Homo sapiens: one gene and its partner. The protein of the gene in region 2 purifies or fractionates together with the protein of the main gene of each other region. This does not show direct contact. Each region holds a gene or a part of one and is shown on either strand. Other genes may lie near its edges.

Evidence for each region. The genes of interacting proteins can lie anywhere in the genome.
Region 1: the proteins of CRB1 (region 2) and MIB1 purify together in Homo sapiens (affinity purification with western blotting, with the first as the bait; one study listed by BioGRID). This does not show direct contact.

Annotation. Positions count from the first base shown.
Region 1 is NC_000018.10:21,862,757-21,866,348, reverse strand, and holds part of MIB1 (E3 ubiquitin-protein ligase MIB1), read right to left. Parts: intron 1,824-3,592; coding exon 1,683-1,823; 3' UTR 1-1,682. UniProt on the Homo sapiens protein: E3 ubiquitin-protein ligase that mediates ubiquitination of Delta receptors, which act as ligands of Notch proteins.
Region 2 is NC_000001.11:197,421,745-197,425,336, reverse strand, and holds part of CRB1 (protein crumbs homolog 1 isoform 1 precursor), read right to left. Parts: coding exon 3,381-3,592; intron 1-3,380. UniProt on the Homo sapiens protein: Plays a role in photoreceptor morphogenesis in the retina. May maintain cell polarization and adhesion.

The DNA of each region.
Region 1 (3,592 bases), on a different chromosome or scaffold from region 2:
CTATAAAAATTTTACTGTTCTAAATGATAGCAGTTACTCAGCTAAACACAGACATGGAATTGTTGAGACTACAAAACCAGCCAGCAAAGCTCCCCATTGCTTTCACCAGGACTTGCAAAGGCAGCAAGGATTAAACAGCCAGAAACAGTGTAAGAGGGCTAGAGACTTCATACTTTCAAATTTAGTTGGTGTTCTATAAAAACTGAAGTAAGAAAAGCTAGCCAGATTTAAAGGAGGGAAAAAAACTACAAAAGAGGATAACTATTTTTAGGAAAAAGCTTATCAACAGCATATAGTAGACACTATGTAAACACCTGATATAATCTAGCAGCAATGAATCCCCAAACATTTATGTGTATATTTACTCAGGAGACAATAAGATTACAAAGGAGATAAAAGGAGAAAAAAAATGATTAAATGCTCCAAAAATTTTGTTTGTTTTTAAAGTCTACAGGTAAGCAGACATTTCTATACATGTCCTGGTCACTCTTTCTAAAGTATTTATAATTAGGTTATTGACCATGTCTTGGATATTGTTGGCAGTTTAAATAATACCCTCATCCGTAGGTATACACAGAAAGACTGTTTTCTTTATAACAAAAAATACTATAAAGAAAGAGATAATGGAAATAAGGCCTATAATGAAGACAGAATCACTAACACTGTCAGAATTAACTGATACAGAGAAGAAAAGATTTTTTCTTGGAAAAGGCATTAATTTTGCAGATCACTGGGATACTATGTACATCTGCAAAGCTAAATAGAACCTCAGAGGTCCAAATAGGGCAATGTCATTTCACTGGTCAGATCAAGCCCAGATAAGTAATCACAGAAAACCGGAAGTACACTTTTCATAGATTTTTTTTAAAAACACTGGCTGAACAAAATAGTGTATAAATTAATGTAAGAAAGGCAACTGTTAGTGGCCAGTTAATAGATACTCGTTTTTTTTTTCTCTTCAGTTGCCCACTATTATTGCTTATTTTTCCTTTTCTTGTCTATCAGTCACCTTGAAACTGGTAATCTGATTCAAGTTAAACAATGTTCCTTTTGAATCTAGAAAACAAGAGAAATGCAAAGTCATTATTCCCTCATTCTATGCTTCCATTTACTCTAAGAATTCAGAAACAAACATGTGGGTAACTTCCTGTTATCTTAAAAAAAGAATCATCCCTTCGGTATTCCCTTAACTATCTGGAACTTGTACTGTCATTTTATAATTTACCATGTGACATAATTGTTTGACCTGCCTCTTTTATTTGATGCATGACTTCTCAGAGAACCTGTTATCAACTCACTGTGTAAAACCACGATGAAATGAAGGATAACTGATCACAAAGAATTATGTCTTTTGAGATCCAACAAATTTACAAATTATAAGAGAAAAATGCAATTTTTTAAAAAAGGATATCCTTAAAGGACTTTCCTCTTAGAAGCCAAAGGTAAATTATCCTATGAGTTACATGAATTTGATGTTTCAAATTTAAAACAAAAACAAAAAACACAATTTCCAACACCATTTTGTAGGGTTTTTTGTTCTGGTACATTTACAGCCCAATTATACTCTAGTAAAGAAACTATGATATTAGAAATTAACTCATCAGAACTTCCAACTAGATCAAAAGCCTATTAAGATCTCATGACTAGATACATTAGCTAACAAAATACACCATGTGTCTTAGTTAATACAAAAGAATCCTTCGTTCAATAGCCTTGCGACAGATAGGACATTCACTCATGCGGTCTCCACAGAGTTGACAGGTTCCGTGACCACAAAGGAAAATCATATTCTTCAGACGATCTAGACACACAGGGCACATTGTCTGTAATGTGAGATAACAAAGTAATAAATTAGACACTTTATATTTGGAAAGTGACAGACTGTTATATATCATTAATTTTCTTTAGTTGTTTTAGTCAAATAATATTTTGGTGGTTTTTAAAAACAATTTTTTAACATTTTTAAATAGTTAAAATGTCATCCCTATAAAATAAAATAGAAACACTGGTTGTACTATCAGGATAGTATGAAAGGTACTACATAAGATTAAAAACTATTAATATATAAAACACAGCCAGACACCCTGGCTCACACCTGTAATCCCAGCTACTCAAGAGGCTGAGGCGCGAGAATCACTTGAACGCGGGCAGCAGAGATTGCAGTAAGCCAAGATCGCGCCGCTGTGATAGAGGCAGGAGGCAGAGAAATTCTAGGCAGACAAGGGTGGGTCCCCAGTGAAACCCAACCTTTGAGCTGAAAAGCCTGAAACCCACAGGCCAAAGTGAGAACTTCTATTCCTGCTTGCCCACTCTCTCCCAATTGGTTCTTTCTTTCTTTTTTTTTGAGATGGAGTCTCACTCTGTCGCCAGGCTGGAGTGCAGTGGCGCAATCTCGGCTCACTGCAACCTCCGCCTCCTGGATTCAAGTGATTCTACTGCCTCAGCCTCCTGAGTAGCTGGGACTACAGGTGCGCACCACCACACCCAGCTAATTTTTTTGTATTTTTAGTAGAGATGGGGTTTCACCATGTTGGTCAGGATGGTCTTGATCTTCTGACCTCGTGATCTGCCCACCTCAGCCTCCCAAAGTGCTGGGATTACAGGCATGAGCCACCACGCCCAGCCCAACTGGTTCTTTCTAAATAATGTCTTTTTACCAATCGATTGTTGCCTTTTCCAAAACTACCCACAGCCCACCCTGCCCACTCCTCCCATGTTGTGCCTTTAAAGACTCCAGACCCAGGTAGTAGAGGGGAGAGAGGCAACTTGACTTCAAAGGGATGACTGGACTTCGGAGGAGAGATGGCTTAACTTCAGGGAAGAGATGGCCGGACTTCAGGGGAAGATTACCTACCCGTCCCACCCCCACTCCAGTTCCCCTCTCTGCTGAGAGCCATTTCCATCACTTAATAAAACTCTCTGCCTTCACCATCCTTCAAGTGTCCAGGTGACCTCATTCTTCTTGAACACTGGACAAGAGCTCGGGACACACCGAGTGTGGGTACCCAAAATAAGGCTGTTACACTGGCCCTTTGCCCTCACTGGCGGAGGGCAGCTACCCCACACTATGAGGCAAGGGGCCAACTGAGCTGATAACACACCGCTGTCCGTGGACGGCAGAACTAAGAGAGCACTCTAACATGCCCTCAGGGGCTTTGGAGTCGCAGGCACCCCCACCTGGGTGCCGCTGCATGGATCCTGCAATTGCTCGTTCATGTGCTCCCTCCCGCAAACAGTTGAGCACAGTGGCCAAGTAAGCAGCGCACCTCTGTCGCAAGTATGACAAAGGGGTTGAGAAAAATCCTGCATCAACTGCTCTCCAGCCTGGGCGACAGAGCAAGGACTCTGTCTCAAAACAAACAAACAAAAAAACCTATATAAACCAAAACGTAATAGGAAATGGATGAAAATAGCTCCATTCAGTCTAACTGAAATTCCCTGAATCTAGGTACTCAGCTGCTCTTGCATAAAAAGAAGGCAATGTATCATGCAATACATGGTGCAGGGTGGGGAGCAGTGCTGAGAAGTAGCTGAGAACACTTGTCAGGCACTATGCTTAGATAGGATACAATCTCAGTCCTGGTATCATTCC
Region 2 (3,592 bases):
TTGATTTAATACAGGAACATTGCATTTTGAATCTGCATTTGGAGACCACCTGCTCCAGGCAACTACCGGTAGCTTTCAAAAGTGTACTGTTAGATAAAATAACCCCTTTGAAGAGGTTAACATCTCTGAATACACTGCAGCACTTTCATATGAGATAAAATGCTTAATAAGAAAATTTGGCCCTTGAAGCCCCTGAGGTTTGAAGATATGCCCAGAATCACTCAACCTCAGGGGTAGCGGGGTGCCTGCTGGTCATCCCAGGATGCCTTCAGCATCACTTTGTGGATCTGGATTAAAAGCCAAAATGCAGAGTATTTTTTTTTCTCAGAAGCCTGATTCTTCAGCAATCCTATTTCTCAGAAATCACAAGCAACTAATCAGCATGTGTGATTTGCTACATGACTTTAGAAACACCTGAAGACATATGACTTGGCTGTGGATTTGGAAGGGTGATACTCATACAAGTGGTTGACATGTCATGAAGAGGAACAACACATACAGATAAAAAACAATTTTGGCAAGCTTTAATGATTGATGGAATACAACAAGATGAAATTTAACAAGAATAAATAAGAGCCACTTCGATCTAAATGTGCGTTTATAAGATTAGAGTGGGAGAAACAGGACTATGTGGCATCATGAGTGACAATGATACAAAGTGACGCAATCACGAAGTGTGGCTGCCAAAAAGTCAATGTTGTATTAAGCTGAAAAACAGAAGCACATTATCTAGAATAAGGGAGGTTATGGCCCTGTGTGTCACTGTATCATCCAGCACATACAGACATCACATCTTAGAAGGAATACAAAGAAGCAAATATATTCCAAAACCTGCAAGCAGCTGATGAAGTGTCGGAAAACTATGTCATATGGCAAACATTAGAAGAAACAGGATGTTTAGCCTGAATAGAAGTGATGGTTTAGATGGCTCGAGATACTTTTCTTCAGATATTAAGTATTCTCAAGCAGCAGGCAAGTTGAGATTTTTATTTGCATGTGTTCCAGAAATGCAACAAGGTCAATGAAGGAAAGCTACGGGCAAATCCTATTCTATTTCAATATAAGGAAATAACTTTTGGGCAATTTTTGGCAAGATGGAGTGAGTGATCTCTCTATTTGTGAAGGTGTTTGAGCAGAGATTTGAGCCACTACATTTGGCAGGTACAATTGTGTTAAAAATTCAGTCATAGAATGAATCTTTTTCTATATCTAGGAAACTATAATTCTAAGAGAATAAAATTCTCAAAATCTAGGTATATGGCTGAAAAGAAGAGATATGTAAATTGCTTTTGTAAGTCAAATGTTCACCAGAGAGCAAGAGGTAGGTGATGCCATTTATTCTGAGTAGTAGTATCTTGAATGCTGCATGTTCTTACAAACAGTCAACACAAGATATGCTGAGAGAACCTTATGGACACTTCTGTGACCTAAGCTTAGTTAAATCCTTTTCAGCACTCTTTCTGTTGAGAAATTAGATTATTTAAAAAAGATCAACCTTGATACATTGGAAATCACTATGTCTTTTGTGTTTAGTCAGCCACCAAAATCCTCTATCCAGTCTCCTTGTTCATTAAAATGTATACCATGGTTGGAAAACATTGAGCCAAATATGAGTGCAAGTCATGAATGGGCTGAAGTTTGCCTTTGTGCTTTTTAGTATGTCTCCTCCCTCTTGCACGTATATGTACAGTAGCAGAAAGACTCCATGTTCTCATTACCACTTAAAAGCAGTTTTTAGTGGGAATAAACTCTCCAGGAAACATTCCTTCAAGATAACAGAAAATACAGAATATTTTAATTTTATAATGAAGAGGTGATATGAAAAATATAATTTTCCTTAAATTTATACCAAGAATTTTCAGAAAGAAAAGATTTCACAGAACTCTCTCTGTCTGTAAAGTGATCTTTTGAAGTCAAATATTTTCTTGAGGGTTAAGCAGTTTCAAATAATGTTGGAGTATAAGGAAACTGGGAGAAGTGGGGGAAGGGTAACCAATTCAGGAACTTGGTTTGAAAAGTTCATGGTTTTCCAAGTTGGATAAAATAAAGAAAACCAGAACCCAGTGGATTGGCATCTCTTGAATCTATTTACTAGGACAGTTAACATCACCATGGTCAGTATTAACCTCATGGGTCACTGCATCTGGAAGCCAGTCAAAATGAGTCAGCATCTGTTTGTTATTTTGTATATGTAGTAAAAATATTGCCTTAGGTCAATTAAATTTTTCTTCAAAAAGTGAACATTGCCTCAGCATAATTTCCCTTTTTCTCCTTAAAAAAAATCACAAAACAACTTGCCATTCTACTTAAAATATTACGTAGAGCTAGTAGATACCATACTTCATTGTCAAACAGGTCCGTGATTTGTAATGAATATTGTGGTCGGGGGAAACCCTTGAGTAGTTTCTAATAATTCTTAGACATTTGAACATGGAATAGAGTATAGGCTAAGACTGGTTTTAATTTTACTTCATATAAAGCAGAGAAGACTACTTACCAGATGTTGTCCTACTTCAAGTTACTCTAAAATCTTGGGGTAAATTACAGCTGAACTTCAAAGCAGTCCGTTACAATTACCTCTCAGACTTTTTCAATGTATGATAATAATAATAAAAAGAAACAGGTATATATTGATCACTATCAACAGCAATCTCTAGAACAATGTTGGAAGTTAAGGATTTTGAAATACTTTGCAAACTGTGGTTTACTAGAGAAATTAGATCAATTAGTTTATGGCATCTACCAAGTTCTACTATTGTTACTTTCCACATTTTTTTTTCTTTTTTTTTTTTCTTAAGACACCTAGTATATTATCTGTCTTCTCCAGGGCAACCTTGGAAAAGATACCTTTGAATAAAATTGGCGTTTTATAAAAACGCTATGCTTAATTATGATTGTGGAGCAAGTGTGAATTGCATGGAAAGGAGAGCAAGGAAATGAATATTTACCGAGAATTTACTATGCACAAGATATCATGCTAGTATGTGGCACTGACAAATTTTATGTCTAAGGTTTTTTTTTTTCAAAAGATTATTTCTCTTTCAAATAAGATTTACAATAAATTTCTGATATGTGACCAATGGTAAAATTGCAGTAGCATTTTGCAAACACAAAGATGAAAACCTCTTTGGAAAAGAGCTATCTGCTTATTTTTTTTACTTCTCTGTATGAGTGAAACTGATGTCCTATGAATCCACTCAAAATTAATTAACGCACATCACTGCCCTCTTCTTTTCTTTCTCATCAGTGGGCAACCAGCAGCAGAAGTCTTGTGGGGTCATTATGTTTCATAGCAGGCAGAAGCAGTCTGGCTGTTTTTGCTGTTTCTGCTCTGCTCTGAGGCATGGCACTCCTAGCCATAGCACTCAGCTTTCTCTCACCTCTCAGACAGTTGGGGCCTTCATAGGGCCTGTGGCAGTCACACTGGTAACTCAGCCACAAGTTGATGCAGCGTCCTCTGCTTTGACAAGGTTGGCTTTCACACCAATCCTTTCTCACACAGCCTGCCTTGACATTTAATGATGAGCCAGACGAGATGTTCTCCAGGGTAATGTGATTCCAATCAATTTTAATGTCTTGGAGACAGCCTACA